Linked DNA regions of Homo sapiens. The protein of the gene in region 2 interacts with the protein of the main gene of each other region in a biochemical or structural test. Each region holds a gene or a part of one and is shown on either strand. Other genes may lie near its edges.

Region 1 (7,999 bases), on a different chromosome or scaffold from region 2:
GCCTGGGTGACAGAGTGAGACTCCATCTCAAAAAAAAAAAAGAAAAAGAAAAAAAGGGGCCAAGCGTGGTAGCTCACACCTGTAATCCCAGCACTCTGAGAGGCTGAGGCAGATGGATCAGGTGAGGTCAGGAGTTCGAGACCAGCCTGGCTAACATGGTGAAACCCCATCTCTACTAAAAATACAAAAATTAGCTGGGCATGGTGGCATATGCCTGTAATCCAGCTACTTGGGAGGCTGAGGTAGGAGAATGCTTGAATCCAGGAGGCAGAGGTTGCAGTGAGCCAAGATTGTGCCATTGCACTCCAGCCTGGGCAACAAGAGCAAAACTCCCTCTCAAAAAAAAAAAAAAACGGCAGGGGGCTGGGCACAGTGGCTCATGCCTTTGTAATCCCAGCACTTTGGGAGCGTGGGCTCACAGTAATCCCAGCACTTTGGGAGGCCTAGGTGGGCAGATCACTTGAGATCAGGAGTTCGAGACCAGCCTGGCCAACATAGTAAAACCCCATAGCTACTAAAAATACAAAAGTTAGCTGGGTGTGGTGGCGCGTGCCTGTAGTTCCAGCTACTCGGGAGGCTGAGGCAGGAGAATTGCTTTAACCTGGGAAGCGGAGGTTGCGGTGAGCTGACATCGTGCCACTGTACTCCAGCCTGGTGACACAGCGAGACTCCGTTTCAAAAAAAAAAGATATTTTGAGAGAGAACACATTCACGTAACTTTCAGTATACTGGCATAATTGTTCTATATTACTATTGTTATTAATCACATATGCATAATTTATAAGTTAAACCATATCAGAAATAGTATATATAGGAGGAAAAAAAAGCAGTTTCAGGCATCCATTGGGGCGGGGGGGTCTTAGAATGTATCCCCTAGGAATAAGGTGAGACTGCTGTACTATTTTCACCGTTTCAAGCTGTTTCTCTCGGTAGAAGGATGGATTTGAACATAAGAAAAGTTCAGGACTTCCCTTAAGGAAGCTCCAAGCAAGGCTTCCAAAGGAGGTTACTGTTCAACTGGGCAGAGAAGGCCACTAAGCAGCAGAGAGGACTGGCTAAAAGAGAAGGTAAATGAGACAGAGGGACTATTCCTCTCCTCACATCCTTGGTCTCCCCAACTTCCGTCTCTGCCATCTACTTGCCTAGTCGATCCATAGCCTTCTCAGTCTCTCTCTCCTGACTGGAGTGGTCAGCTGTAGCAAAGCCAGCCTGCAGGAAGAAGAAATGATTACCAAGGACTTGGGTATCTGGGGTATGCCCAGTATTCAGCTATTGCATCTCAACCCCACCCACTCTTCCATACTCCCCTTGGTGATGCAGGGCTGGGACTCTGCCACCCACATTTCTACTTTGCCCTGTTAAACTGAGCAAGGCTGGAGGGAGATGGGCCTTGTTCCTTCCTATTCATGTAGGCATCACCTCATGACACTTCACCGTGGCAGCAGGAATGCCTTCCTATAGTGGCCACAGAATCCAGTATACAGTTCTGCGAACTCTTGCAGAGCCAGTCTTATCACTGCACCTTCTCTTTAGAGGTCTGGGTCTCAGGACTCTCCTCCAAGCTCAGAGACCCCCTACCATCAGCTGGGGCAGTGCCTTCTCCTTAAAGGTTGGAATTTCAGCTCTGCAGAGCCTTTTCCCTAAGCTTTTAAATTTTAATCAACTTCATCTCTTTGTTCCTTCAGCCATAGGTTGGTAGCTGTTCCCTGCGGTTGCCACCCCCAGGTACACGTTTTACCTTTTCAGTTACTTAACAACTTTATAGCTAGTAAACAACTCTATCAAATTCTCTGTTTCCTCACCAACACACTGAGGTGGGGGAAGCTTTATAATTCCTCTGCAATGCTGAGCACTGAAGGCAGTATTTCTAATCTAACTGAAAATCTTCCCGCACAGCCAACCAAATGCTTCTCTGCTCCCATCACTCAGAAGTTCCTGAAACCCTATGACCTCCAAGACCTCTTTCTAATGAATCACGAAATGTTCCCTGCCTGCATAAAAGACCTGATTTTGATCCCAGCTCTGCCATCCATTCAGAGTGTGACCTTGAACACATCACTTCAATTACTGTGCCTGAGTTTTCTTCTCCAGAAATTAGGGGTGACTGTTCTGACCCTGCAGGGGACTTATGATTAGACACCATTTATGAAAACACCTGGCATGTGGCAAGAATGTAACATTTCTTGAATTTAAATTCATCTTTTCTGCTACATCTAAACTGTACTCGGCACCTGCTCCAATCAGCATTCATTATCTAGTCATGTCTGGGTTTAATAATTCAGTTCCACTCCCTGTAGTTAGTGACAACCTCTGGTCACTGCCGCCCAAGGAGAAGTCAGACCTCTCACCTAAACCACTGCCACGGCCTCCTAACCACCTTCCCATCCAGCCATCTGGCCCAGCCTTACAGAATTAATCACTACTCTGCTCAAAACCTTCAACAGCCCTCCACTGAGAGAGCACAAAATTAGCCATGGCATTCGCACGTCCCCTCTTCTCCCACTCCCATCAACCTGTTGAGCATAGTTCTCTGCATGCTCTGAGACCCAACTCCAGGCCATGTGCCCTGCACTTTCTCATCTCCACGCCTCTGCAGACACCACCAGCCTCTCACCTTGATCCTTTCCTGCTATGCCCTGACAAAATTAGTCCCATTCTATTCTGCACTCCAAAGTAATTTTCTTTGTAAGTGTCGCTGCATTTTTCATATCTTACTTTGGCTAAGTACCATCTTTGAGGCATCATTCATCCAGTCGGTATGTCTATCTCCTGTGCCAGGCACTATGCTAGGCTGTGCAAACAGCCCTAACAGAGGGTTCCTACCTTCAAGCCGCTCAGCACCTAGCCGGTACAGACTGTAAACAAGGACAGGTAAGAACTGTAATAACGGTCTGTAACGTTCTCGGGAAAACCAGGAGCTGTCTAGCTTACATGAAAACAAGTTTCTGGAAACCCTGCGTCAAACAGGGCCTTTCTGGTTTCAGTAAGGAGAAGGGGGAGCGCGCATGTGACATCTGGGGCTCAGGGTTAGCTGGCATCCCCACCAACGGACAGAGGTCCACAGGTCTGTAAAGTCAAGTCCCTCTCCTCGCCGCCCTCACCTGGCCCTCGCCCAGGCTCCTGGCAGCGGGCCCCGGCTCTCGGTCACCAGCGTCACCTCCCATTTACCAAATCCGCAGCGGCGCCCAGCGGGCGGACAGCCGTCTCTGCTGACCCAGAGCGCCCACCCACGCCCTCGGCTTTCCCCGCCCCGCAGCCCCGCGGCCCCGCGGCCTGGCCGTTTTCAGCTCGAGCGCGAGCCCAAACAGCGCTCCGTGTCGCGGGGCGGCCCGAGGCCGGCCAGAGGCGCTTCCCCGGCCCCGCGGCCCCCGCCCAGCCCGGCCCCGCGACTTCCCGCCCCAGGCTGCGGCTGGCTGTTGCTCCTGGCCCCCACGCGGCGCTCACCTCCGGGCTGGGGGGCGCCCCCCGCGCGCTAGGCAGCGGCGGGCCCCGAGACGGCTCCGCGGCCCCCTGCGCCTGGGCCCCGGCGGCCTGAAGGTCCATGCCCTGCGGCCCGCGGCTGGTCGCCCTGGACGCCGTGGGCCACGTGACGCGCCGGCCCGGCTGCCCGCCCGAGGATCCGCCGCAGAAGCGCCAATCAGCCTGGGGAGGGGGTGGGTACCGGCCAAGAGGGCGGGGCGCGGGGGTGTCACGAGCAAGCGGGGGCGGGGCGGCGCAGGGGGCGGGGCGCGCGGCCTCGCGGAGCCCGCCCCTCCCTCCCAGCGCGAAATCTGAAACAATCTCGGAGACGGATTTTGGAAACTCCTCTCGGTGCATATCCTAAGGCTGCACGACTAGCTGCGTGTGAAACGCCAAGCGTACCCTACTCGGCCACTCGGGGTGTGCTCCAGCTTCAAAACCCCGCGTGGGTAAGACACATGAGCAACCCAGTGACCTCCACCTTGAGCTAATGATCGTCTTTGAAGTTAATCCATTAGAAACCAAGATAGATGATTAAGACACAAACTGCAATATGCAGTGGACACAGAATACAGGCCACGACGCTTACTCATAATAATCCTGAACATTCGGGATTCCTGTATTTCCATGCTCAACGCCTGATACCGACAACCTAATTATTTCCCATTTTGCCTCGAAAGGTGGCTTCTGGGGATAGGCAGGGCCTGAGCTGGGAACAGCCCAACTGGAAAGACAGCCTTCCCTGCCTTCCCCACAGTGCCTAACCTCTAATAACAAACCAGCTCAAGGTGTGCTAATCACGTCAACATCAGGACATGAGACCCTCTTCCTTCATCCCCCTCAAAGACTGTGTTGTTTGTACAACACAAAAGGCATTTGAAAAAATTTAGCATAAAACTGACACACAATATTCGATATTATTTTTGTTCTATATGTAGATGTTCCTACACAGGAGTCAGTATCCCCAAGGCTAACTGCCTCTAGGTCAGCAATGTCCAATAGAACGTTCTTTAATGGTGGAAGTGGAAATGAAAGTTCTACTATCTGTACTGTCCAATATAGTAACCATATACCTACTGAGCACTTGAAATGTGGCCAATGTGAATAAATTGAATAATTCTAATAAATTTAAATTGCTACATGTGCCTTGGAGCTACTGTTTCTAACAGTGCAACTCTAGGTGTACTAGCTAGATGTGTTTTCATAACCTGCAATATTGAGAATCAGATACAGGGATGTGATGACCCCAGGTGACCACCCTTATAGCCTTGTGTTAAGGAGACTACCACTATCCTCTTTGCTCCCTAATCTACATATCTCTTTCGTAAAATTAAAGTGCCAAATAAGATTAAGAATGTTAAACATCCCAGGACTTAAGGGACAGGAAAAAGAGGAATTTTTTTCTTATTTTAAAACAAATGACAAGAAAACAGGGGCTGGCCGCGGTGGCTCACTCCTGTAATTCCAGCACTTTGGGAGGCCGAGGCAGGCAGATCACTTGAGGTCAGTTCAAGGCTATCCTGGCCAACATGGTGAAACCCCATCTCTACTAAAAATACAAAAATTAGCCAGGCGTGGTGGCACACACCCATAATCCCAGCTACTCGGGAGGCTGAGGCAGGAGAATCACTTGAGCCCGGGAGGTGGAGGGTGCAGTGAGCAGAGATTGCCCCACAGCACTCCAGCCTGGGCGACAGAGTGAGACTTGGTCTAAAAAAAAAAAAAACCAGAAAGAAAAAGAAAACAGTACAAAAGCTTAAAATAAAAATGTTCTAAAGTAGACTCTAATACTCATAGAAATTTAATATATAATAAAGGTAACATCACAAATCAGCAGAGAGAAACATAACTGCCCAAATAGTGTTGGCAAAATTAACTGCTTGGGGAAAAAGAGTTGTTCTCAGCACCAGGAAGAGCTTCCAAAGCATTTTAAAAACAGACATCACACATACACACACAAAATACCTCTGGGCATCAAAAATCGCCACAAAAGGTGCCTATAATCCCAGCTACTTGGGAGGCTTTGGCAGGGAGAACTGTTTGAACCTAGGAGGCAGAGGTTGCAGTAAGACCACACCACTGCACTCCAGCCTGGACCACAGAGCAAGACTCTGTCTCAAAAAAAAAAAATCACCACAAACAAGGCTGGGGGTAAAATTATTTGCAACAAATGAGAAACAAGATATTAATATTCTGAATATGTTTTTAAAAACTCTGGCCAGGCACAATGGCTCATGCCTATAATACCAGCACTTTGGGAGGTTGAGGTAGGAGGATTGTTTGAGCCCAACTGTTTAAGAGACCAGCCCTGGCAACATAGCAAGACCAGTCTCTACAAAAAAAAATTTAAATTAACCAGGCATGGTGGTGTGCACCTGCAGTCCCAGCTACTCAAGAGGCTGAGGTGGGAGGATCTCTTGAGCCCAGAAGTTAAGGCTGTAGTGAGCCATGATCACACCACTGCACTCTAGCCTAGGTGACAAAGCAAGAACTTGTCCAATTTAAAAAAAAAAATTAACTCATAAATTAGTAAGAAAAAAAATTTTTAAATAGTCTAAGGATGTAAAAAGATGAGAAACATAAAATACACTAACTTCACTAATATCAAAGTATGGTAAAACAATGACATATCACATTTCACCTATAAAATGGTAAAAATAAAAGATATAATTACACCAGTACAGGTAAGGGTACTGACACTTTCATGTATTGCTTGAAAGAAGGAGCAAACCAGCAATACATATCAGTATTCTCTAAAAGCAGTATCCTTTGATCCAGTAATTCCACTGTCGGATGTCAATCTCCTAAGGAAATGGCCAGGGATGTGAACAAAGATTGACAAGAATCTTCATCAACAGCATTTATCTAATTTTTAAAAAAATTAGAAATGACAGTCCAGGCCAGGCTTAGTGGTTCACGCCTGTAATCCCAACACTTTGGGAGGCCAAGGCGGGTGGATCATGAGGTCAGGAGTTCGCAACCAGCCTGGCCAATATGATGAAACCCCCGCACTACTAAAAATACAAAAATTGGCTGGGCGCGGTGGCGGGTGCCTGTAATCCCACCCAGCTGCTCGGGAGGCTGAGCCAGAACCACTTGAACCCGGGAGGTGGAGGTTGCAGTGAGCCGAGATGGAGCCACTGCACTCCAGCCTGGATGACAGAGCAAGGCTCCATCTCAAAAAAAAAAAGACAGTCTAACCAGAGGATTAGTAAAATATATTATGGCTCATTTTTACAATGTAATGTTACGAATTCATTAAATGTTTTTAAGGCTATTTAATGACACAGAAAAACAATACTAAGTGAAACGTAACAATAAGCTACACTGAAAGCTTCTCCCAGTGACAGGATGCTTTTTTTTACCACACTATTCTATTTCCTCCATATTTTCCAGAACAAATGCATACCACGTATCTTTTATAATGAGAATAAACCAACAAAACTGTACTTTCTCCTTTTTTTTTTTCCTTGAGAAGGAGTTTCGCTCTTCTTACCCAGGATGGAGTAGCAATGGCATGATCTCGGCTCACTGCAACCTCCGTCTCCCAGGTTCAAGCAATTCTCCTGCCTCAGCCTCCCAAGCAGCTGGGATTACAGGCACCCACCACCACACCTGGCTAATTTTTGTATTTTTAGTAGAGACGGGGTTTCACCATGTTGGCCAGGCTAGTCTCAAACTCCTGACCTCAGGTGATCCGCCTGCCTCAGCCTTCCCAAAGTGCTGGGATTACAGGCGTTGAGTCACCATGCCTGGCCACTTTCTCCTTCATTTTAACTGGCTCTTAGGTCGAGATTAGAGATACTCATGCTTGACCTGGGATAATTTTAAAAAAACCCAGTCGTATGCTATCCATGTATTTTGGGAAACATTTAGGACCTGTGGAAGATCGGGCCTCAACATTAAATCAGCAATTCTCTTTACTGGAATCAGATTAGCACATCAAACTGAGCAGTGTCATGCACCTATAATCCCAGCTACTCAGGAGTCTGAGGTGAGAAGGTCACTTGAGTCCAGGAGTTCAAGACCAGCCAGGGCAACAGAGCAAGACCCAGTCTCAATCATAAAAATTTTTTAATTTTTAAAAAGATTTAACAAGTTAACATAAAATTAAAGTGTGTCTCAAAACCAGACAGCCATCTTGTCTGCCATCACTGAGCAAATTACAGATGGACTCAATACAAATTTGCCCACGGGGCTTGCTTGCAATACTATTTCACAAAGCTGACTGTATTCTTCATCTTCATAAATGGCCAGTCTGATGCATAGCATGTTTAGCTACAAATGCCTCTGCTGACTCTCCCTGCAACATTTTCATCGCTCGCCAGTAGATCTGTCCACAGTTCTCAGGTCTACCAAGGGGGTGGTTCAATTCTTCTTTCATATAATCCATCCAAAGATCTTTTAAAAAAAAAACATACAATTAGATAACTGACAGAGTGTTATTAGGTAACCTTATTAAATATCAATTCAACTCAAGATTTCTAAGAAACTTAACTTCTCATTGTTACTTCCCTAGGACGCTTTGTTTAACAATACC
Region 2 (8,054 bases):
TAATGCCAGGCATTAGACTGTGGTAGGAGGTTAAAGGGCTGAGTTATTATGTTTTGAATGGTTGTTCCATTGGAATTGTTTGTTTTTCTGCAAGAAAACTGCAGATTTTTCAGTTTGATCATCAGGAAGCCAAGGATCTATGGCAGAGATAAGAGGAGGGAGGAGCTAAGGAAGGCTTCATCCAGAGGCACTGAGTCACACCATGGCTGACCAACACAGAGCGCTCTAGAAAAAAGACATTTTCATACTTCTGAGGGAAAGGGATGATGGGGGTTGCTGCAAGACCTGGCCCCATGGCCTTTCATCCACAAAGCCGGTGCTTAAAATACGCAGCCAAGAACAGGCCTCCCACATGCATGCTGAGCCTGCGTGACTCAGGCTGTTTGCGTTCAAGTCTCCTGTTGTGGGCTGGAGCGCTGAATCAGAGTCCAGATTTGCCTTGGTGACACATGACAAGAGGGGCCATTGCATTTGAACTACATAAATATTATGCTTAAGTGTTTTTCCTCATTTTGGAGCCAAACAGGTCTCGTTAATGATAAAATCACTGCAATATAGTGGGCCCTTTTTTTCTGGTCTGGAATTTGAGACAATGTCAACTGTGCCAAGGGGCCTGGCAGCAGGAAGAAATGGCCAGCCATGGAGATTTGCAGCCATCATGCAAGTTATACCATTTAATTTTATAATTGTAGCCATTGGGAGCTGGACTACAGTGCACTTCTCGTGGTCTGCTCTTACCCCAGGCTGCGGGAGTGGAATCAAGGGGGCCTCTTTCTAGTCTAGGATTGGGTCAGGGCATGTGAAATAGCACTTTATGGGGGCAGCGGGCAGGCTGTTTCTCAGTCTGGCTTTGGGGACATTTGGCAATAGGGAACAGAGGTTGTGCAATCGATCAAGGACTCTTTATTGGAACCATAAGGCTGAGGAAGCAGCAGGAGGCCATTGTCTTTAAAAGAGAAATGAATGGCCCAGGCCTCCTGTGGCTACCTCCCTACCTTGGAGCCTCAGCTTTGCACGACAGGACTGGCTCTGGTTTAAGGACATTTTGAGAAAACCGTAGGCCCCAGTCCCCCATGAGTGGCCTCTGCTTGCTGCTTCCTGGTGACGGTTGTTTTGGTGAAGAGCATGATGAGGACACTTGCTATCTATATAGACACTGAGGGGCCCACCATCCCACCCTATATAGACACTGAGGGGCCCATCATCCCATCCCACCAGTCCTGAGCCCCCTGGGGAAGCTCACCAGATAGGCTGTAGCTACCTCTGGGCTCCAGTGGGCCTATTCTGCTGGGAATATTGGACAAGACACAGGCGAGGCCTTCCTGTCAACTCCTCCTTAGGGGTACATGGGGGAGTCGGCTTCAGGGAAGAAGGAATGCTTGTGAAAAGCCTGTGAGGAGAGGGAGAGGGAGAGGGGCTGAGGGGCTGAGGATGCCCTGCGTGTACCTGGAAATGGGACCTCCCCAGAGGCTGTGGGTTTGCAGCCACGCCTCATTTCCTCTTGGAAGGGGCCCTACCACTAAGCTGCGGGGCCCACTTTGCCGCCTCTAAAACGTGCCAGTGGCTGGGTTTGCAGTAAGGAACAGCCGTTCTGATGCCCCTGGGAGGCCACCTTTCCTGGCTGCCACAGCATAGCCCCTGGCATGTGGCCATGTGCCAACAATTAATGCGCCTCTTTCCCTCCCGGCATCACCACCACCGCCAAGTTCTGTATCTCAGTGAGTTGTGCCCATTGGAAGTGGGTGTAGAGGGTTGGGGAGGGTGCCAAGGCCCAGACTGGGGGAGCACTCTGTGGCCGAGGCGGTGAAAGGGGGCCCATTCTGCTGAGAGGACAGTGGCCCCAAATTCAGCTGGCATATCTCTAGCGAGTCTATGTTGGGGTGAGGGGAGAGAGAGGGGAAAGACAAGAAAAGCCCCAGTTTTAGGAAATCCACAATACTTTTTCTGATCTCTTCCCTCCCTCCTTCCCTCCCCCCATCCCCTCCCCTCCCTGCTCCCCACAATAGGACATCGGCAGAAACTAGATGATCAGACCAAGCCCGGGAGCTTGTCCTTTTCCGAGCGGCTCAGTGAACTGGAGCAGCTGCGGCGCACAGCCATGAGGGTCAGCCCACACCACCCAGCCCCCACGCCCAACCCTCGTGCCTCCCTGAACCACTCCACTGCCTTTAACCCTCAGCCTCAGAGTCAGATGCAGGGTAAGTACCAGATGGAGCCCACTGCCCGCCTCTCCTGCACCTGGGCCACCACCCACAACTGGCCCCCATGTGCACACACCTTCCCAGACCAACTGGGGTTTCCCCTTGATGCTCAGAGAAAGGCCTCGAACCAACAGCACCACCTGGGAGCTGTTGGAAATGCAGAGTCTTGGGCCCCACCCACCCCAGACCCACCGAGTCAGATCTGCATTGTAACCAGATCCCCACAAGGAAAAGCACTGCTACAGAGGATACGAGGAGCTCTGGGTATGGATATCCATATTGGATAGATAGCTCTCTTGAATTTTTTAAGAGTTAGCTTTGGCTATGCTATTTTTTTACCTACCCATTAGGCTTGAAGACACACACGCAGACACACACACACACACACGTCAAGCAAAGTGAAGATGGGATGTTTCAAGTTCTCGCTATTGCCAGATTATTTGTGGGTTTTGTATCTAGTGTTTTTTTATTATTAAGAAATAGTTGAAATGTATGGATGTCATCACATCAAGGGTGTTATTTGCAAATCAATAGAGAATGCAGGTCCCCCCAGCCCATGGGGCTAGCTGGCAATTACTAAAGCGCTGTAAGATGCAATAATTGCCTAAGGCCCACTGTGCCAAATTAGATAATACAAGAAGTTCATTTACACTGTAGACCAGTGACGTCAATGACTGTTTGCTCTGTGATACCGTTTCAAAAATCCAAAATGCAGACTTTTCTCTGTGCCATGCAGGATGCAGCTGTGTGTGATATGGTTTACAGTAATATTTCTTTCTCAAAGTAGCAGGCTTGTTAAGGAAAAGATAAGCAACACATCTGGGGAAAAGGGCAGGTGGCCAGCAATCGATGTGGTAGCTCTTTGCCCCTCTCGGACAGCAGGAATTAGCTTCCCCAGGCATTTTCTGTATGTGAGTTGTATTGTGGGATGTACAAATATCATCTGTTCCTTTGGGTTTCCAGGCCAGTAGCTCTCTATTTTGGGTTCAAACATGGGTTCTCAGGCCGGGCGCGGTGGCTCACACGTGTAATCCCAGCACTTTGGGAGGCCAAGGCGGGCGGATCACGAGGTCAGGAGATGGAGACCATCCTGGCTAACATGGTGAAACCCCAACTCTACTAAAAATACAAAAAATTAGGCAGGCATGGTGGCGGGTGCCTGTAGTCCCAGCTACTCAGGAGGCTGAGGCAGGAGAATGGTGTGAACCCGGGAGGTTGGAGGTTGCAGTAAGCCGAGATTGCACCACTGCACTCCAGCCTGGGCAACAGAGCGAGACTCCATCTCAAAAAACAAACAAACAAACAAACAAAAACATGGGTTCTCAAAAGGCATGCCCACTGTCTCCCATGGAGCTTGACAGCCCATGCCATTAGCTCTCACTGTTAGGTTTCTGGGGAAGGTTCTTCTACTTGATTGGAAAATTTCCAAATAAATCTTTCCAGAAGATACTATGCACACAGCTAAGTGGCCTGTCTGTGGAGTAACCCTTTTGTAAACAAACAGAAACCTAAAGCTTGATGTTTTGGGGGGCTGCCTGTCATCTATAGGTTCATTTAGGTGTATTTAGGAAGAGGATCCATGAAACCACTGGTTTCCTGTTACATAATAATCATTAATAATGATTTAAAATGTGTACATTGATTTTTTTTAAATTCCAAAATACAAGCGTATATGGTAAATTAAGTCAAATGGTATGTTCAGTGAGCGAGATGGGCTTGGGGCAAAACAATACTTTGCTTCCAAAGAGGATACAACTCTCAAGGAGATTCTTTCATCTTGCCTTTAAGGTCATTTAAACTAATTCACATAATCTTCAGAAAACTAATTCACATCATCTATTCATGTGTAAAATCAAAAGGAAGACTGTTTTCTTAGTCTCTCGTTGCCTAACTGGCCATTTATACTACTAGGTTGATTAAGGGATTTGCCTTTTTCTGCTGATATGGGAACAAAAAGTCTTAAGCATTTTTAAAGGCAATGGAAAATTCAGCCACATGGGGGAAAATTGATATTGTCACCATTGAGTTGCTCTGTTTCTTGGTGAAGAGTGAATCTAATCTGATTTCCTTCTTCATCAGATATGCCTCTTTAACAACAAAAACAAAAAAATGGGGGGAAGTTGCACATTGAGTTCTCATCCTCTGAAGCTCCTGGGCAAAAGCATTATTGTGGACCGTGTGATGGGCATTCGTCAGCTCTTTGGAGACCTATATGCTTAGTAGAGTATCAGGTTTAACACTAAGCATCGCCCCTTTTTTGTTCCTCTTGAAAACTTTTACTTCTGCAACATTTAAGAAATCATAACTCGCTTTTAGAGTTCCTACGGGCTTGGTTGCTACTCTAAAGAATGTGTGAACTATATTGCTGGTGTTCTTTCTTTCCAAAATATGAATTTGATATTCAGTACTTCACTTGTAAAATTTTAGGAACAACTTTTAAAAAATAAGTATCCAGAATATTTTCATGTGAAACAACTTTTCCTTTTCCTTTTGTTCTTTCTTTCCTATAAGAAAACGCTGTTTTACGCTAATCATGTTTTGAGTAGACCCTTGGGCTTTTTCTCTTGAAATTGGAAAGTTAACAGGTATAATATGCAAGTCTTGTTCAGCCAAGACCTTCAGTTTGTTCTTGACAGTAGGAAAATGCTTATTTTCCAGGCTCAGCCCTGAAATTTCTATGTTATATTTACGAAGATACTTTAAGAAATACAGCATGTGTTTCTGGCTTTCTTTGAAATGGCAGTGGTAGTTTTCAGAAAAATATCCAATTTGTCAGAGTAGTTCCACAGTGGTGCTGTCCAGATGCATGAATGTTTTTCAGCTTTACAGAAATGTCAGTAACCGGGGGTTTGGCGAGCTTGCCGGGATTTATAGAAAGGCTCAGGAACCCTACCTTGCTAGGACTTTGTCAGAAGGGTTATGCCAGCTCCTCTGACTCTGTCAGCAAGAAAATACTGATATAGAATAGCACCAATACTTACCTAGAATCACATGTGCTGGAGGGTCACTCAAAATAGACATCTCAAATTATCTGAAGCACGGTACAGATTGAGAGGGGGCAAGTTGTCATGCCACTAAACCACTGTTTATTTGTTGGGGTCTTAACTATTAAAGGGCTGAGGTTTATTTCAACTTCCTATTTTACCAGGTCTTAAACTGGTAAAGCCATTTTGTCATGAAATAGAATAGAAAGCCATTTTGTCATGAGTAGACCCTTGGGCTACACGTTTCTCCCAGTCAGGACACCATCATTAACTTCTACGATCGAGTCTTAGAATTCTTTTTTAATTTATTTCAAAAGATAGAACAGGGCAGATTCTAGAGCTAGTGGTACCGATGCCTGTTCAGTCACAACTCCCACCTAGAGATGGGTTTGGGCAACCCGAGTGAGTGATTTTAAAATTTCACCCCTGATTGACCAAATATGATGTATCACATTTAAGGTGTCGTAATTTCCTCCTTTCTGGGAATATGAGGATGGAGTAATAGATGCTGGTACAGAAAACTGAAACCTAGATAAACTAGGAAGCCCATTTTGTTGTTCTTCTGCATGCTGGTTGTCATAAGCATGTAGGAAGAAGATTTAACTCTTTAACTGGACCAGTTGTGAGCTATTTTGACGTGGGTCAGACATTTGTACATATTATTCCATTCCCTCAACAATCCTGTGGTATCATTTATAGACAGAGAAATCGAAATTCAGAGGTTAAAAATTGCCCAGTATCTCAAAGATTGTAAGTGATGAACTTGGACGCAAACCCAGACCTTCCTTGCTACAAAGCCAGTGCAAGTGGGATGGCCGTTCCCTGGGCGTGCACTCTTGGGTCAAGGATCGATTTACTACAGGGCTGACCAGTGTCGAGAAGAATCCCAATCACCAAAGGAGGGATGGAAAAAGTGTTGGGCTATCCACTCACTTGGCATTCTTGTATTGAACATGTTCTATTATAATTAGATGTTGATAATAAGAAGAATTTTGGGGCCAGGCTGTGTGGTGGGCACCTTAATAAACTGTCTCCTTTGGTACATGTGCATTTGTTTATAAAGTTTGGGAGAAAAGAAAACTCAGAATAATGAATCTCTAAATAAGAGTGAAAGAGGGGGTATATGAGCAGGGAGAAGGCTTACCAGCCACTCTGTTTACTTTATTGGGGCCATTGCCTTCCTACTTTTGAAGTTCATTGGGACCAAGTGCTTATCATCCAAACCCAGTCAACATCTAATCCACTTTTATGAGTATGCGTGCCTCACTTTGAGTGTTCCATATGGCCAAGAGGGGTCCCTGACCTCTCAAATCATCTCTTGATTTTTAGTATTCCAAGTAACTTCTGTCTTGCTAATTATTTTCCCCCAAAATTAAAGTTACTTAGGAAGGACTATATTCTGGTGCTGCTGTCTGCAAAACTCTGAGATACTGAAATGACCCTGTTTCTCAGTTGTATAGAGTTATTTAAGTCCGTCTGATTCTCTCTTTATCATCTGGATAGACAAAAGGAAGAAAACCTTTCCACCTTCCTGTAGGAGAAGGAGATAAATCCTCTTTCCAGCCTTGGAGGTAAAATATCCAACTGCATTGCATTGCTTTCCTTTCTCTCTCCCTCTCCTTCCCTCTCTTCCTTACTCTTCTAGCAATTTGAAGTTTGAAAACAAAGGGAGTAGGGACTATTTGATTACCTTGAAAGTGGAGGCTACAATCAAACACCAGAAATCCTCATATGTGAATCTATAAATGGTCATTTAATGGTTACACAAAGTAACATATTCAGAATGTGAGAAATTAATTTATATAATAGGCTATAAACATGACAGGTGAATGATTTCATTTAAAAATAGCTTTTAACAAGGTGTAGTAGGGTATGAGAGCCTTTCCAGGTCTATAGCATTATAATCTTACCCCGACAACAAGCCTGAATCAGGTGTTCACAGGAATAAATAAAAATAATTAAAGGAAAGAAGGGAGAGAGAGAGAAGAAATGAAAACCAGTGGGATGACTGCAGAGATTCACTGCAGGGCTTGATCTTAGTGATGAAATATTTCTTCTGTAGACTGCATATGTTCTGAACTTTCCCCTTATGCTTGTAAATATGTAGGCCAGCACACCCATGCACTAAAAGGTTTCATTTGGAAGATTAATAGTTTCAGCAAAGTTGTAGTTGGAGCATGTATTTGATATTGATGGCTACATATCAGAAGGCTTGAGCTGGGAATCTAATAGCCAAGAAAGATAGCAGATCATAGTGGCTAAGAAAGAATGAGGGCTCAACAGGCAGACTACCTTAGTTTCTACCACATTCACTATAGGACTTTTGGCAAGTTACTTAACCTTTTAAAGCCTTAGTTTTCTTATCTGCAAAAGACGAGTAATAATTATACTAGCAGATCCTAGGACCACTGTGAAACATAAAGCAGTGGACATTAGAGCCAGCCCATGGTTAACACTCAAAAACTGTTAGCTGTTATGATCAACATCAATAATATCAAGTTGTCGTAGTCTTATATATTATAGACTGGGTAATATATAAAGAAAAGTTTATTCGGCTCATGGCTATGGAGGCTGGGAAGTCCAAGAGCAAGGTGCCATCATCTGCTGAGAGTCATCCCATGGCAGATAGGTGGAAGGGCAGAGAGCATCTGTCAGAGAGCTCACTTTTATGACAAAGCCACCTCCATGATAACTAACTTACTCCCTCAATGGTAGCATGAATTCATTTGTGAGGATGGAGCCCTTATGACTCAATCACCTCCCAAAGGCCCCACCTCTCAACATTGCCATGATGGCAACCAGGTTTCCAACATATGAACTTTTGAGAAGACACATTCAAACCATAGCATTCCACCTCTGACCTCCCCAA
Region 3 (8,054 bases), on a different chromosome or scaffold from region 2:
GAGCAGAAACAGCAGCACAGTCTCCTGGGAGCCGCATCCCCGCGCACATTGAGTGAGGAACCGACCCCGGCGCTTCTGAGGCTGCGCGGAAGAGTCAGACAGCCGCTTCGGGCACAAACTACTCCAGGGGGCGTTGTGGCACCACGATTTGATTCAACTTGCATTACCCTGGCATGAACATCACAGGGACAAGGGAGTCTGGGGTCCAGCATGTACAGGCAGCTGCACACACGCCGACCGCCACACAGACACTGTCCCGGGAAACGCCTGCCACTGACTGGGAAGGTCTGTCACATGCAGACTAGCTCCTAAGTCCAGCGACTCTGGGGAGGGGCCAAGACGTGGCAGGAGCCCACCCTGACGGCCTCACTCGCTGTCTGTGCACACGTGCACGAAGCTGGAGGGAGAAGGGCTGCATCTCCATAAACACCGAACCCCACATCCAGTAAAGCCTCTCCTACGGACAAGAAGCTCCTGAGCTGGTGAGGATCGGCGCGGCCCGGGGCGTTCTCTAGGTAGTGGGAGTAGCAGAACCACAGAAGCCAGCAGCCAAGCCCGTGCGGGGGTGAAAGAGGGACGGGGAGCCCAGTGCCACCCGTGGAGGCGCTCCTGACAGGGGCTCCACCCCAAGGTCATGGTGGGGCTGCGGTCGTCCCAGACTCCAGGACCAGAAGGGGCTCTGGTTTGAATCCAAGCTCACGGCCTTCAGGGGCTGCAGAGAATTCTAAGCCTGAGGGCTCACAACTGCACCTGCTGAACTCCCTTTACACCAAAAAGGGCCAGGGAGGGGACAGTTTGGCAGGGAGGTGGCGTGGTGGGGTGGAGGCTGGAGTCGGCACGGTTTGTTTAATTCTAGTTCTCTTGCTGTGAACGAATCATGCCACCTCTGAGCCTCGGTTCCCTGATCTCAAACGGGAAAGACGAATATGTAACCAAGCTGGAATTGCTGTGATGGCATGGCTGCTGTGACCTGGAGGGAAACTGCTGGCAAGACCACACCCCCCAACCCCCATCCACACACCCCACACCTCCACACCTCCTCACACCCTACACCTCCATACACCCCACACAGCTCCACACACCCCACACCTCCACACACCTCACACCTCCACACACCACACACAGCTCCACACACCCACCTCCACACACCTCACACCCCACCTCACACACCCCACACTTCTACACACCCTACACACCTCACCCCTCCACACACCTCACACCTCCATACACCCCACACACCCACCTCCATACACCCCACACCTCCACACACACTCCACACACACTCCACACCTCCATACACCCCACACCTCCACACACCCCACACACCCTCACCTCCACACACCCCACACACCCTCACCTCTACACACCCCACACACCCCACACCTCCACACACCCATACAGACTGCCCGAACCCAAATCCTGTCACGGTGGCGAGAACGCCAGACCAGAACGATGGCCCCCAGCTCAGGGTCGCCCTCCGTGTGGCTGGAATGCCCTACTCAGGCTGAGGGGGGCCTTTTCCTTTGGAAAAGCCTGCCAACTCCAGAGCCATCTCCGGGTGAGCCTGGGCCTCGCCTCTGCCCAGCCCTGGTGAGGCCGGGCACAGCATCCCACCCCCGCCCACCCACCCCAGCCCTTGCAGCTTTTCAGAGCAGAAGGGAGCTTTCCATTAGCCACGTGTCTCAGAAGGGGCCAGCCAGGCGACCCACCAAGAGCGTGTCCTTCCCAGGTAAACCCGAGTGCCACAGAAGGTTGCCAGCCCGGGCTGCCAACGAGTCTGGCTCCTCCCCCAGGGCAGGGGAAGGGCAGGGCGTGCAGAGCCCTGGGCTGGGGGCAGGAGCTCGAGGCCCACCCCTCCCTGAGCCCACCTCCTCGCCTGTGGGCTGGAGGTCGGACACGATCGGAAGCCACCCTTGCCGCATGCCAGGCGCTTCGAGTATTTCCTAGACCTCGCCAAGCCCCTCTGCTAAGCGGAGGCTCCGAGAGGACCTGCTGAGATGACACAGACACTGAGGGCCAGCAGGGCCACGGCCACCCTCCCTGCCCGCCACCACGCCCACTCAAGAGCGTCTGGACTGGCCACAGTCCACACTTCCACAGCCCAGGGGTGGAAGCAGGGCCAGCACCCGCTTGGGAAAGGTTCAGAACTTGACCATCACAGGCTGCTCCGAGCAGGTCTTGCTGTAACTCCCTGGACCTGCTGTGGTCCTAAAGCCCCTTCTTCTGTGGCCATGCAACGAGCAGGGCAGGGGTCACCGAGGGACCCCTCTCAAGCAGCCCACGTGGCGGCCACACAGGGCTGGGGGTCAGGGCAGCAGACCTGGGCAGCAGACCTGGGCCGCTGTCTGGGGGCCTTTCCCGAGACACGTGCTGGCCCTGGCGGAAGGGACGGTTGTCCCCGCATCCTGAGCCGGGCGCCGCCTCTCACCCACAACTTGTTGCTTACAAAAATCACAAAGTCCTCAAGAACAAGCCCCCTCATGCCAGCTGTGACTGGAGGAGAGGAGCTGAACTCTGGGGCTGCGGTGGAAAGTCAGCTTCCAGGGGCCGCCTCTGCTGCCGAGCGGGGGCAGGGAGAAGGGCCACTGAGCCCCTTCCCCCAGGAGTCAGGGAGCAGAGAGAAGGAAGAGGGTCTGTGCAGAAGAGTCAGAGGCAGCGAGGCCGGAAGGAGGCTTAGCAAAGGCCAGAGAGCTTTTGGGAACAAGAACTACCTTTCACGGACATTTTCCTCAATCTCTTAACTGAGCCGTGACTTTTGGAAGCCAGACGGGAGGCGGGAGGGCTGGTGGGCTGGGGTGCGCGGCTAAGACACACAGGGAGTCCAATGGCTGACATCAGAACACTCGTCATGCCTGCACGGGTGTGAGAGCAGACACGCAGAGAGGGAGAGACATTAGAAGACTCCTTCGGCATGTGACGCCAACAAACCCTGCTCAGGCCAAGGATGTGACACCATCAATGGCCACGGGGACGCACAGGTCTCCCTGGGGACTACCCAGGCCAGGAATCAGAGGGTGGGGCAGCCTGGCTCATGGTAGCCCTGGCCCCAGAGCCCACAGGTTTCTATAGGAGCAACAGACAAGCCCGTGCCCTCAGTGTGCAGGTGGGCACCGGGGCAGGACCCGTGACTTCAGGAGAGCAGAGGGCGGAGGACGCCACTCCAGGAAGCCGCCCGGGGCACGGGGTCTCCTGGGTGGGGCTGGCTCCAAGGGCTCAGCTTCCCCAGGAGGCCCTGGGCCCTCCTGGCTTGGAGTTACTAGGCCTCCAGCCTCCACTGGGTGCTGTGTGTGCTCCATGCCCCTCCTGGCTGATCTGGGTGCCAGGGCCTTCAGCGACAGCGCTGGGGTAGGCGGGCAGGAACGTGGCCCCTGGGCCTGCTCCCACACTGCAGCATCCCCATACTGTGAGGGCTGGGCTGCAGCAAGGCCCCAGGCTGTGGCTCTGGCGCCCTCGGGCAAGGGTGGGCCTGTGGCCAGCAGCTATGCTGGGACAGACCGGCCACTCTTTCCAGAGCTCACCACTGCCGGATGCCTGCAGGGAACCCCACACTTGCCCTGGGGGACTCTCCTCTGACACTGCTTCCTTCGTGCTCCCTGATGACCCAGCGCTTCCTGGGACACAGCGTGTCCTGCTGGACGAACCCGTTCCTGCCACACCCTCGGCCTACCCCACTTTCCATAGTGCCAGCTCCCCGGTCCTCCCTGTCATCGGTCAGTTAGGTCAAAAGCACCTCCTCTCCAGAGAAAGGGGAAGCCTAGAGCTTCTTAGCCATCTCTTAAGGTGGCTTCCAGGGTCTGCAGAACCTGGCTCAGGAGCTGGGCACAGCCGGCTGCCGGGGGAGTTGGTAGAAATCCCAGTCCTCCTGGACCCCACTCCCCATCCAGGAACAGATGGCGTGACTCAGGGGTGAAGGGCGGCCAGGCCAGCCACTGCGCCCCCACTAGAAGAACAAAGCTTCTCAACCCGGCACATGTGCCTGGCTGTGGGGACAGAAGCGGAGACCAGCCACCAGCCTGGGCAGCAGAGCCGAGGTGGGCAGGGTGAGTTGCAGTGGCCCTCAGCAGGAGACACCAAAGCGTGCATCAGAGGACAGAGGTTTGAGCCCGGGAGCTCAATGCCCCCAACATCCCAAGCTTGTTCCTGGGCTCAAATGCGGTTCCTGTGGGAACTGAATGTCGGGTGGAGAGAAGGACAAGCGGGCGCGGGTGGCAGAGAGATGAGAGAGGACAAGGACAGGTGCAGTTTTCCTCAAGAGAATCTGGTGCCTCTGCGCTGCCCACGTCGTCTGGGAGGACCAAAGGCCAGGACACGTCTCCCTACCCAGGGTTCTCCGGCAACACTGCCTCAGCGGGCAGGCCTTCCCTGAACACTGCCTGACGGGGCCTGTCCCTCCAAGCCTCCCGCCCCACCCTGCTGGACTCCTGCTTTGCACTCCCCTCTGTTTCTATGGACTGTCTTCCCTCAGCACGAGTTCCACGAGGTCCCACCCGTAGCTGCATCTCCAGCACCCCGCTGGGGCAGTGCCTGATCCCTGGGAAGCCTGCAGCCCTCTGTGTTTGCTGAGGAATGAAGACATCCTTGGGCCACCACCAGCCCCCAGGAGGCCGCATGAGTGACACACGTGTCCTTTTCAATGCAGGACCCACTCCCCTGAATTCAAGTCACAAACACACAAGTTTCAACCCAGAAGCCTGGAGAGGAGGAGGGCTAGGGACAGCCCCCCAAACTCCTGACAGCCCCCAAAACACCTGAATAACTCGGAGGGCCACAGCCTTTTTCTCCACCCATCTGGGAGGATTCCCGCTGTCAGAGCCCTGAAGAGTGAAGCCCCCACTCACTGATTCTCACTTCCAATTTGCAGACACCCCTCCTTCTGACACCCAGGGCCAGGGCTGAGATCCAAGCCTCTCCTCTGTGCGCTCTGACCTCCCCAGCCTGGGTTCGAGCCCAGTGCCAGCCCTCACCAGCTGAGCAGTCCTGGGCAGGCTGCTGACACCCATCCCTGCCCCAGGCAGCAGTGTGAGCTGTGGATGGACCGCTGCTGTGACCAGGTGAGGGGTGGAGACCCTGGCTCCAGCCTCACAGTCCCTGCCCCCACCCGATAGAGGGACTGGGCTATGCCACAGCCAGGGGAGCTGTCACCTGGAGGCACTGTCACCTGGAAGCAGTGCCTCCAGCACTCAGTCCTTCCAAAGCATGACCTCCTGGTTATAAACCTCTCTGCAAAAAGCCTGTGCGCAAACGCTCGTCTCCGCAGCCGGGCATGGTATAATTCCTCAACCCACAAGCACACCAGGGTGACAGGACACTGCTCTCCAGCTCTGGCTCCGGGGTGCTGGCCAGGCTCCTCTCATTCCCTGCTCCCCTAGACAATGCTCCCCCAGTAGGTACCAACACTGGGCCTTGAATTGGGGGAGGCAGGAGTCTACACAGCCTCCAGGCTCTCCTATTTCCTTAGGCCTGAACCAGCTTCCCGAATCTATTTCCCCACAAGTAAAATGGATGTTAAAATACCTGCTTTAGCTCCAGGATTGCTCTGAGAGCAACGGGGACAGACAACAGGATGGACAATTTGGGACACAGCCTGGACAGGACCTTCAGCCTCAAGAGCAGAGGAAGGGGGCAGGTGCTAACTCCACACCCAGAGCACTTAGATCTGTGTCATGGCCTCAGAGGTCGCTCACTGTCAGGCCTGGCCACGAAGGCTTGCGAGAGCCCCAGAACTGGAAGGAGCTGGGCCATGAGGAACCGTGTGGGGGCCCCGTCTGTTTACCCACAACCTGTCTCCAATGCCACCACGGCCGCACATGCACACACGGTACACTGTGATTTCCCTACGGCGCCGCACGGTGACTTCAGTGGGCAGGGACTTTCTGGCCAGTGTGTCTTGCTCATTCTGTCTCCCCTGCCCCACTCCAGCTCCTCTCCCTCCTGCCCCCACCTCTCTGGCCGCTCCTTCATTTTCTCTTCAGTCCTGCCCACGGTCTCTGTGGCACACACGCTCCCACGAGGGGTCAGGGGCACCCCATTCCACCCAAGACTGCTCTTCTGAGGCCCACAGCCAAATCCCACTGCCCCGGAACAGCTCCAACGGCCACTCCACAGCCATCACCCCCTCCCAACCTCCCCCTAGACTCAGCAGCACTGAACCGTCATAGGCAAGAAGGCCCGGGGCTGTGTCTCAGCTCTGCCAAGGGCTGGCAGAGAATTTTTAAATTCTCCGAGCCTCAGTTTCCTCTAATGAAAATGGGAACAAAAGCCTCCACCTCAGTGATTTAAGGACGAAATGAATTCACACACGCCAAGCCCCAGGCTGCTCCTCAGTTGTGACTGGCTGCACTCCAGCAGGCCTCAGTCTACCCCCAATCCCCCCTCACAACCCCCCGCCTGACGGCTCATGCCTCTGAATGTTTCAAGCCAAACCTCCCCCTCCACTCCACTGCCTCGAAGCTGGTCAGGCCTTGGCTGGTGCCCCCAGGTCTGAGGTCAGGCTCTGCACCAGCCGCCCTACCTCCAGGCCTGTCCCCTCTCAGCCACTATGACAGCAACTCCCCTAAAACACCAACTCATTATTGAATTCCGCCACATCACCCTGTGAACAACGATGGCGCCATCCACCTCCTTACATACCTCGAACTTTCCAGAAGTTAGAAAATAACCTCAGCTGGGCGTGGCAGCTCATGACTGGAATCCCAGCACTTTGGGAGGCCAAGGCATGAAGACGGCTTGAGCCTGGGAGTTCAAGACCAGCCTGGGCAACATAGTGAGACCCTGTCTCTACAAAAAATAAAAAACTTCCCTGGCATGGTGGCATGTGTCTGTAATCCCAGCTACTCAGGAGGCTGAGGCAGAAGGATCGCTTCAGCCCAGGGGTTGGAGGCTGCAGTGAGCTATGACTACACCACTGCACACCAGCCTGGGGAACAGAGCAAGATCCTGTCTCTTATAACAAGAAAAAAAAAATGGCCAGGCACGGTGGCTCATGCCTGTAATCCCAGCACTTTGGGAGGCCGAGGCGGATGGATCACTTGAGGTCAGGAGTTCAAGACCAGACTGGTCAACATGGCGAAACCCCATCTCTACTAAAAATACAAAAATTGCCCGGGCGTGGTGGCATGCACCTGTAATCCCAGCTACTCGGGAGGCTGAGGCAGGAGAATTGCTTGAACCTGGGAGGCAGAGGTTGCAGTGAGCCGAGATCCCACCACTGCACTCCAGCCTGGGCGAGAGAGACTCCATCTCAAAAAAAGAAAAAAGAAAAAAAATCCTGCCACCTGTGGAGCTTCTGAAAACCCTGCTAGCCAGGCTGCTAAAACAGAATGGGTGTGGGGGCCAGCAGTAGGTATTTTTAAGGATCCTTAAGGTGAAAGGATTGCTTGAGCCCAGGAGTTCAAGACTTCAGTGAGCTGGGTTAGCGCCACTGCACTCCAGCCTGGGTGACAGAGCGAGACTCTTGTCTCACAAAAAACCAAACCAAACCCAAAACAGTTCCAAGATGTAAGATGTATGGTTAGTACAGCAAAAGATCTGGTTGGACCCAAAAGGTGCCTCTTATTCAAGATGTAAGAGTAACTACAGCCGAAATAGATCTATTAATTCCCCAGAGGGCCCCTTTAAGGAAATGTTTAAAGTATTTCAGGACAGGAAAGTGACTATTTAAATATAATGCAATTCAATGCAAAAATGTTAAAGGATGTGAAAAGGTCTGCACCCGAGCGCCCACCGTCATCAGGCCCACGTACCCAGAGAGCAAAAGGAGGGGCACCTGGGCTCACTCTGGGGTGACACCATCACCAGAAAGAGGCACTGCTCCCCCAGGGAGCCCCTTTGGCTCTCCCTGAGGATCCAGAGGGTGACAAGGCCCCACATCACAATTTCCTCCCCACCAAGTCCGCAGGGCACAGACTGCTCTGCAGCCCGAGGTCAGGCACCTACCTGCGAGCGCCTGCTGGACTCTGCTGGGCTTTGGCATCTGCATGGGCACAGTGGCAGGGACGCTCCCTGGGCTGCTTGAGGGACCGCTGGGGAGGGAGGCACTGGGGGAGAAAAGAGCA
Region 4 (8,054 bases), on a different chromosome or scaffold from region 2:
CAAGGGCTGCCACAAATCAGCCCACTGAAATTGTTTATCAACTCAAAGGCAATACCAGCATCGTAAACTTTTATGTCATCATAAGCTATGATTATTCTTACACATATTTTACACATCAAATTCTGTTTTCCTAAAATTAGGACTTAGGGGTCATATTAACATTGAAAATCCCTGAAAATGCAAGGTACAGAACTCTGATTCTTAGGGCTCAATAACTGGCCCGTAATCGACATTCTGGTGTTGTTGACCTGCTTTTCTGTCATCATTCTAACTGTCCAGAACATTCTCCAAGTGCTTTTCTTTTCCTCATTACCATCAATTTGGAAGAACACACACTATCTTGGTTATCTAACCAGGTGGAGGACAGCAAAGTGACCAAAATGTACCACTACCCATTGACTACAGATCAACTTATGTTTCTGAAGTGGAAAGATGTATAATAAATGTGAGGCTACAAACATCGAATCAGATGTGGACTAAACTCTCAGTCCACAAGGGTGGATCCCGGTAAACAGGTGCCACGCCTTTTTAACTTAGATCACGCCGCATGACCACTGCCTGTGTACTTCAGAGTTTGAAGAGGAAGTGCAAAATATCTGAGAAACCATTTCCCCCAAGGAGCGGGGGGAAATATATGCATGATTTATAAACTGCCAAAATAAAGATCAGTTTTAGGATACACAGCCATGCTTAATGATGGGGATATGTTCTGAGAAATGTGGCATTAGGCAATTTTGTCATTGTGGGATCACATGCCTAGATGGTATAGCCAACTACACACCTGGGCCATATGCTAGAGCCTATTGCTCCTAAGCTACAAACCCGTACAGCATGTTGTGTACTGAATACCGTAGGCAACTGTAACACAACTCACTGGTCACTAGAAATTGTTTAGCTCCATTATAATCTTATGGGACCACTGTCGTACATGCGGTCTGTTGTTGACTGAAACATCATTAAAGCAGCACATAACTGTATGTTCATTTACACTTAAATAAACACGGACAGGGTAATTCATTAGAGAAGACCCAAATTGTAATAACTTTGTTTCTTGATCCAATGCCTTTTAGGTATAAAACCACTGTGAAAAATCATATAAACAGGTTTTGACTAACAATTCATAATAAATGACATTGCTAGATACCTCAACGCAATGTTTTCAGAGCTGTTCAAGAGCTCAGTTTTCCTAGTTCTCTCTCACTGGAATTTTAACTTATCGGGCAGTTGGCCACTCTTCTTACCCAGCATTATTTATATTCTGTTAAAACAAAATATACTGTTGCATAATTTTGAAAGCAAAACATCAAATACAAAATGGCTCTATTTGTGATGTGAAAGCATCTGATACAATTTCGTCTAGTATATGAGGAATGTTCCTTAGTAAAGACCCAGGAAAAGTACAATGTTCAATGAAAGCATACGTTCAATTTCAAACGTCACATGTTCGTCAACTCCAAAGTATCTGTGCTAATGAGGGAAGCAGCAGCAAAGGCACTCCCCACGTGTCTGCCATACTCACTCTTAACAAGGGTGTCGCGTTTTGCAACTACTTTCAAACACAAGCTATTAAGTTTTGGGTTTTTTTTTTTTTTTTTGAGACAGTCTCACTCTGTGGCCCAGGCTGGAGTGCAGTGGCACGATCTGGGCTCACTGAACCTCCACCTCCCCGGTTCAAGCTATTCTCCTGACACAGCCTCCTCAGTAGCTAGGATTACAGCCATGAGCCACCACGTCCATCTAATTTTTTTATTTTTAGTAAAGATGGGATTTCCCTATGTTGGCCAGGCTGGTCTTGAACTCCTGGCCTCAAGGGATCCACCCACCTCAACCTCCGAAAGTGCTGGGATTACAGGCGTGAGCCACTGTGCCGGGCTGTATTAAGTTTCCTTTTGTTGACTCCTACTGATAAATGGCAACCATCTCCTCTCAGACCAGTCACTGAAACACAGATCCCTCTCCAACCCTCGGCAAGACAGGGCTTTTGTGTTTAGATACATCCTTCCCTTGGGGCTAAAGGAAATCACTGAGTATTCAGTTCACACGCTCTCCCCTGGCGTGTCCTTCTCCTTTCAAATAACAGTTCACACTTGAAAAACAGCCAATGGAACAAAATGTTGACACATAACCTACACCGAGGAGATGGCCTTGCCACCAAGAAGGTCCAAGTAGAACCCGTTAAAGTGGATAGTTTAAGAGTAATCAAGAGTTTAATGTATTTCACTTCAAAATCCCTTATACGTGATTCTTTTAGTCCATCTGCCTTCTTAATTTCACTTCTGATGGCATAAAAACTAGCTGGCATTTATTAAGCAGACTTAACAATAGGGGAAATAGTCCAGAAATGTGAGTATTTGAAACAAACTTGAGATAAAAAATACACAAATTATTCCAAGCATTTTGTGTGTGTATAATTTTTTTTTTTTTTAAAGATGGGGTCTCAGTATGTTGCCCAGGCTGGCCTCGAACTCCCGGGCTCAAGTTATCGAGCCTCAAGCCTCAATCTCCACACTATCATGCCTGGCAGAAAGGAATACATTTAATGTCTAAATCATTCCCTACTCCCTCTTTCCCAAAAGTTAATAACACAAATACCACTGTCTCAGTAGAAACAGTTAGATACTAATGCAAGTCAAACTCTATTATAACCCACATCAACAGATCTTTTAATGAAACTAGACTTTCACTCAGTTAAACGCTGCTTAAAATAAGTGGGCCTACACTTAAAAGTGTGCCCACTAAAGGGAATTTGTGGTAGTGGATCTGACTTGTAACAAACTGAGTATGTTTTACCACTTTTATAAAGTAAATCCCTAAGTAGGAGAATAAAACAACAAAAAAAATTTCAAACAATGCCATTCTCCCTAAGCCCTATATGATCCCAAGGGTTATTCAATGTGACTCTATTGCTCTACTATCTCACGAGACTCCTGAAACTGTCAACAACTACGTTCTGTCTATCGAAGCCTCAACAAACAGGCTGAAAAGAATTATATATTTTTAAAGAAACTACACTTTTGCTCAGAAAATTAAAACATCTTCATAACTGACCTAACCAAATAGGATTAAAAAAATAATCTGTTTGGTAGGGGTTTACAATATGTCCACACAAAAATAATTACGTGGACTGTGTGTGGCAAGGCTTTCCTCTACTACCAGTCATTAAGAGGCCCTTACTTTCAGTGTTTGACAAAGCTACTTCAATTAGACTTTAACATATACAGAACATAACAAACTATTTATCAAACTATATTTAAAGTCATATGACTAAGTAGAATGTTCTAAAACATTTTAAATGAAGCTTTTCTTGGTTATTTTAAATAAAGATAGAGAAAATCTCCCTAAGATGGGAGGTTTTCCTTTGTGGAGCAATTTTAGAAACGAAACTATAATATTCTCAGCTGGGCGCGGTGGCTCACGCCTGTAATCTCAGCACTTTGAGAGGCTGAGGCAGGAGGATCACTTGAGGTCAGGAGCTCAAGACCAGCCTGGCCAACATGGTGAAACTCGGTCTCTACTAAAAATACAAAAATTAGCCTGGCGTGGTGCCAGGCACCTGTAGTCCCAGCTACTAGGGAGGCTGAGGCAGGAGAATTGCCTGAACCCAGGAGGAGAAGGTTGCAGTGAGCCGAGATTGCGCCACTGCATTCCGGCCTGGGCGACAGAGTGAGACCCCCTCTCAAAAATAAAGAAAAGAAAATAAAATTCTCATGACTTCGAACTTAGAATGCACATTTTTAACAGGACCCCACCATGCATTTCTCATTATAGGTTAAAAATAAACTTTTAACTTAGTAATCTATATAAAGGCTTACACAATCTATCTTTTTTTTTTTTTTTTTTTTTTTTGAGATGGAGTCTGGCTCTGTCGCCCAGGCTGGAGTGCACTGGCGCCATCTCGGCTCACTGCAAGCTCCGCCTCCCAGGTTCACGCCATTCTCCTGTCTCAGCCTCCTGAGTAGCTGGGACTACAGGCGCCCGCCACCACGCCTGGCTGATTTTTAGGTTTTTTTTAGTAGAGACGGGGTTTCACCGTGTTAGCCAGGATGGTCTCGATCTCCTGACCTTGTCATCCACCTACAGTATCAGTCCTTGCAATAAATACATTCTGAAAGCTGTATTCAAGAAATCGCCTGGCCTGAGTGCGGTGGCCCACACCTGGAATCCCAACACTTTGGGAGGCTGAAGCGAGCAGATCACTTGAGGTCAGGAGTTTGAGGCCAGCCTGGGCAGCATGGTGAAACCCCATTTCTACTAAAAATACAAAAAAAGATAGCCAGACATTGTGGCATGTGCCTGTAATCCCAGCTACTTGGGAGGCCGAGGCAGGAGAATCACTTGAACCCAGGAGGCGGAGGTTGTAGTGAGCCAAGATCGTGCCTCCTGCACTACAGCCTGAGCAACAGAGTGAGACTGCATCTCAAAAAAAAAAAAAAAAAAAAAAAAAATCACCTGGCTTTAAAAAATATATATGAAGCCCAAAATAACGACGTCTGGCCTATCATTTGCTCATTTAAGAGAACTTCAGAACAACAAGAGTACCTGAGATAATGTATTTTGTATAAGGAATAAAATACTCTTAAAAATATATATACATTGCTTGCTATCACCCTATTGCCACCCAAAGAATGTGTTTTATTTTTTACACAATTCTGACCATCCATCGAAGGGTGTGCATTTGGCAGCTTGCTGCTACATCCTGGTAATGAAGGGTGTCAGGTGTTCCAAAAGGTCACATCAGAAAGTATTACAGAAAGCCTAAACCAAACAGCTTATTTTAACTTGGCTACTAGGGTGACAATCTGAAGATCTGGTCACCAGGCTTGGTGGAATCCAACCTGATGACACAGCTTCTGCTTCTTAGGTACGTACAGTCACGCGCGGCGTAACATTTCGGTCAACAATGAGCCGCACGTATGATGGTCCCACAAGATTCTAGTGGAACTGAAACGTCCTGCCGCCTAGTGGCGTCTTGATGCTCCTGACCCTGTGCAGGCCCAGGCTAATGTTTGTGTCTTACTTTTTAAGTTTAAAAAGTTAAAAACAATTTTTAATATGAAAAAGCTTATAGGAAAGTAAGAATAAAAAGGAAGAAAATATTTTTGTATAGCTGTAGTGTGTGTTTTAAGCTAAATGTTCTCATGAAAGAGTCAAAAAGTTTAGAATTTTTAATTTAAAAGTAAAATAAAACGTAAAAAAGTTACAGTAGGTTAAGGTTAATTTCTTATTGAGGAAAAATTTGTAAATCAACGTAGTACAGCCTAAGTGTTGACTGTTTATAAAACTCGGCTTTGCTCAGTACTGTCCTGGGCCTTCACATTCACTCAGCACTCATCACTGACCCATCCAGAGCCACTCCAGTCTTGCAAGCTCCATTCACGGTGAGTGCTCTATACAGGTGAAGCACTTTTCATCCTTTATACCATATCTGTACTATATTTTTTCTATGTCTAAATGTGTTCAGGCACACAAATACTTAGCACTGTGTTACAACTGCCTACAGTATTCAGTAGTAACACGCTGGACAGGTTTGCAGCCCGGGAGTAATAGGCTGCACCACCAGCCTAAGGCTCTACCACCTGTATTTGTGTAGTACTCTCTGATGTTAACACGCACATCTCGGAACACATATCCATCTTAGTTAAGCAACACGTGGCTATGTGAGGACACATACCTCTTTCATACCCTGCTGCATTTCTGACTTCCTACTGTAACTTTTTAAAAACAATCTGTGAATTATGCAGCTTTCTATTTTTATTGTGAATTGTTTCTACTTTGGAGCCTTAGCACTCTAAAATAAAACATTAACTTTGGGCTGAACCCTTAACATTTTTTTTCTCTTCAAGAGCTGACCTTGGTGTATCAAAATTCTGAATAAAATCCATTTACTCAATCCAAAAAAAAAAAACCATGTTATTTCACAAAATGATTTCTTGTATCTTAAGAAATATAAAAAAGGAGCACACAGTGAGTACAAATCAGGATTATCATACCAAAGGTATATCACAGAAAAAGTCCATTATACATTCATACCGTGGAGCAGAATTACTTGAACAAAAGGCAAGAAATGGAAATGTAACTTGTCAACAGAAAAGAACTGCTAACAGACATGGATCTTTCACTTAACATAAAGTTACGACAACCCTCTCCTCCCATTTGTTTCTATATTATCTTACTTTTAGAGAACATTTAAGACATAGGCATCCTTCAGACGTTGCTATTAACACACAGGTAATCTGCCATTGTTATGGGTAACACCACAGTCTATAAGCCCAGTTGATGAGGTCTGCTCCCATCTTCACTCTAGATTTGTATCTTTTCAACTATACCTGCAATCTTTATGGCTACAGGATCCTCTGAAACCGGAACAAGCCCTTCTTTGACTTCAACCTGCTTTTCAGAAACCAGGGGAGATATGGCGGGAGGGGAATACTTAGTTTCCACATAGGCCACCGGCGAGGAGGAAGAGGGCTTAGAATCATGAAAGAGGCTGGCCCAGGACTTGGGCTGGCTGACAGGAAGGGTGCCTGATGCAGAGCCCGTGCCGTCAGCAGGAGGTGATGCACTCTCGGGTTTGGTTGGGTCCAAGTCTATGCTTTCCGTGGTGTGCAACTCCACCCCGTTGGTAGCTGTGCCCTCACCCGAGGATTCAAGTATTTGTCCATTAGCAACTCCAAGGTTTTCAGTAGTATCGGTACCAACGCAGGGCTGAGCCCCAGCTGTCCTTGACAGGGTGTCTCTGCCAGCCTCTGCAGGGAAGCAGGACTGACCAAAATCAGCCCCGGGGCCCCCCTCTGGCTGCCCTGCAGTCCTGGTGTCACTGCCGAGTGCTCCGGGGAAAGGACTGTCAGGCACAATGTCACTGACAGAGTCTGTGGAGTTCTGGGGGCTGTTACAAGTCCTGGGCGTAACTGACGGGGGCATGTCACCCATAAATTCTGCATCCTCTGCACTGACACTGTTCGGGACTGCTGAATTGGCATGGCCATTGACCAGGGCTTCTGTGGAGATACTATCATCGCCACCATCTTTCAAATAGCTGTAATATCCAGGTGGCCGCTTTTTCTTCTTTTTACGCTCCCTTTGTCCAAGACCACCTGAGACACCATCATTTTCCAAAACTTCCGCCTCCACATTAGAACTTCCATCCAAAGCGAGGGCAGAGCCTGGGTACTGGCAGTCGATGGAGCCATAGCTTGCTTCTTTAGTGATACCATCAGGGGTTATTTTGGAAGCTGTACAACCGAGAATAAATTCAGGGGCCTGAGGGTTCAGTGTGCTTGAAATACTGTAGCTGGGGGTTCTCGGCAAAGTGTCACTGGGTTCAATGACTTCATCGACACCAAACTCAATTCTCTGATATTCTTGTCCTGTTTAGAAAGAAAACTATTAGTTAAGAACCCAGTTCTACAAACTCTAAGTACCAGTAATTACTCACTTTCTCTTTGAAAATAAAAACCTTAAGTTCTCTTCCTAATCAACAAATCTATTACGTCCTTTACTTACGCTGAACAATTTGCGGAAAATGAAACAACTATAAAATTATTATTTAATTTGGGGATATGAAAAGCAGAAGCCTGTACTTATCTTTCTAGCTAAGGAAGGCTTTCAGAAGGTAGAAATTAAAATAAATTTGTAATAAAAAGCAAGTAATATTTTGCCAATTTTAAAAATACCCCCCAGTGGAATCTGACTTTCTTATAGCTGCCTTATGCCTGAGATAAAGGAATATGTATTTTGGACAACTTAAATTTTAAAAGATCATGACAACTAACTTAGGGACTTAAAACATGGTTAAATCAGCTTCTGTAGTTAACGTGATTTGATTAATTCCAAAAACATGAACTACGCAAAGAATCCTATACATACTGGATAGGAGAAATTAGAAAGTATAAATTTAAAAACAAAAAAAAAAGATGTCAAAAAAAGATTCAACAACAACAACAACAACAACAAAGAATCCTATATATAAAAGCGCACTTCAGAGCACTCTTCTGAATTCTCTATCTCTTGGTCTCCTCCGCTGGTAACCTTCAATTAAGTCTGAAAAATGGCCC

Evidence for each region.
Region 1: the proteins of RUNX1 (region 2) and COPRS form a complex in vitro, tested with the Homo sapiens proteins (one study listed by BioGRID).
Region 3: the proteins of RUNX1 (region 2) and DTX2 form a complex in vitro, tested with the Homo sapiens proteins (2 studies listed by BioGRID, with this or other methods).
Region 4: the proteins of RUNX1 (region 2) and USP10 form a complex in vitro, tested with the Homo sapiens proteins (one study listed by BioGRID).

The regions. Positions count from the first base shown.
Region 1 is NC_000017.11:31,855,657-31,863,655, forward strand, and holds the start of COPRS (coordinator of PRMT5 and differentiation stimulator), read right to left. Parts: upstream 3,589-7,999; 5' UTR 3,544-3,588; coding exon 3,445-3,543; intron 3,307-3,444; exon of another isoform or gene 3,165-3,306; coding exon of another isoform or gene 3,102-3,164; intron 1,210-3,101; coding exon 1,143-1,209; intron 1-1,142. Other genes in the region: UTP6 (U3 small nucleolar RNA-associated protein 6 homolog), read right to left, coding at 7,703-7,860. UniProt on the Homo sapiens protein: Histone-binding protein required for histone H4 methyltransferase activity of PRMT5.
Region 2 is NC_000021.9:34,828,554-34,836,607, reverse strand, and holds part of RUNX1 (runt-related transcription factor 1), read left to right. Parts: exon of another isoform or gene 1-295; intron 296-2,006; coding exon 2,007-2,198; intron 2,199-8,054.
Region 3 is NC_000007.14:76,492,135-76,500,188, reverse strand, and holds part of DTX2 (probable E3 ubiquitin-protein ligase DTX2), read right to left. Parts: intron 8,037-8,054; coding exon 7,936-8,036; intron 2,853-7,935; coding exon 2,712-2,852; intron 1-2,711. UniProt on the Homo sapiens protein: Regulator of Notch signaling, a signaling pathway involved in cell-cell communications that regulates a broad spectrum of cell-fate determinations.
Region 4 is NC_000016.10:84,743,946-84,751,999, reverse strand, and holds part of USP10 (ubiquitin carboxyl-terminal hydrolase 10), read right to left. Parts: intron 7,368-8,054; coding exon 6,327-7,367; intron 1-6,326. UniProt on the Homo sapiens protein: Hydrolase that can remove conjugated ubiquitin from target proteins such as p53/TP53, RPS2/us5, RPS3/us3, RPS10/eS10, BECN1, SNX3 and CFTR.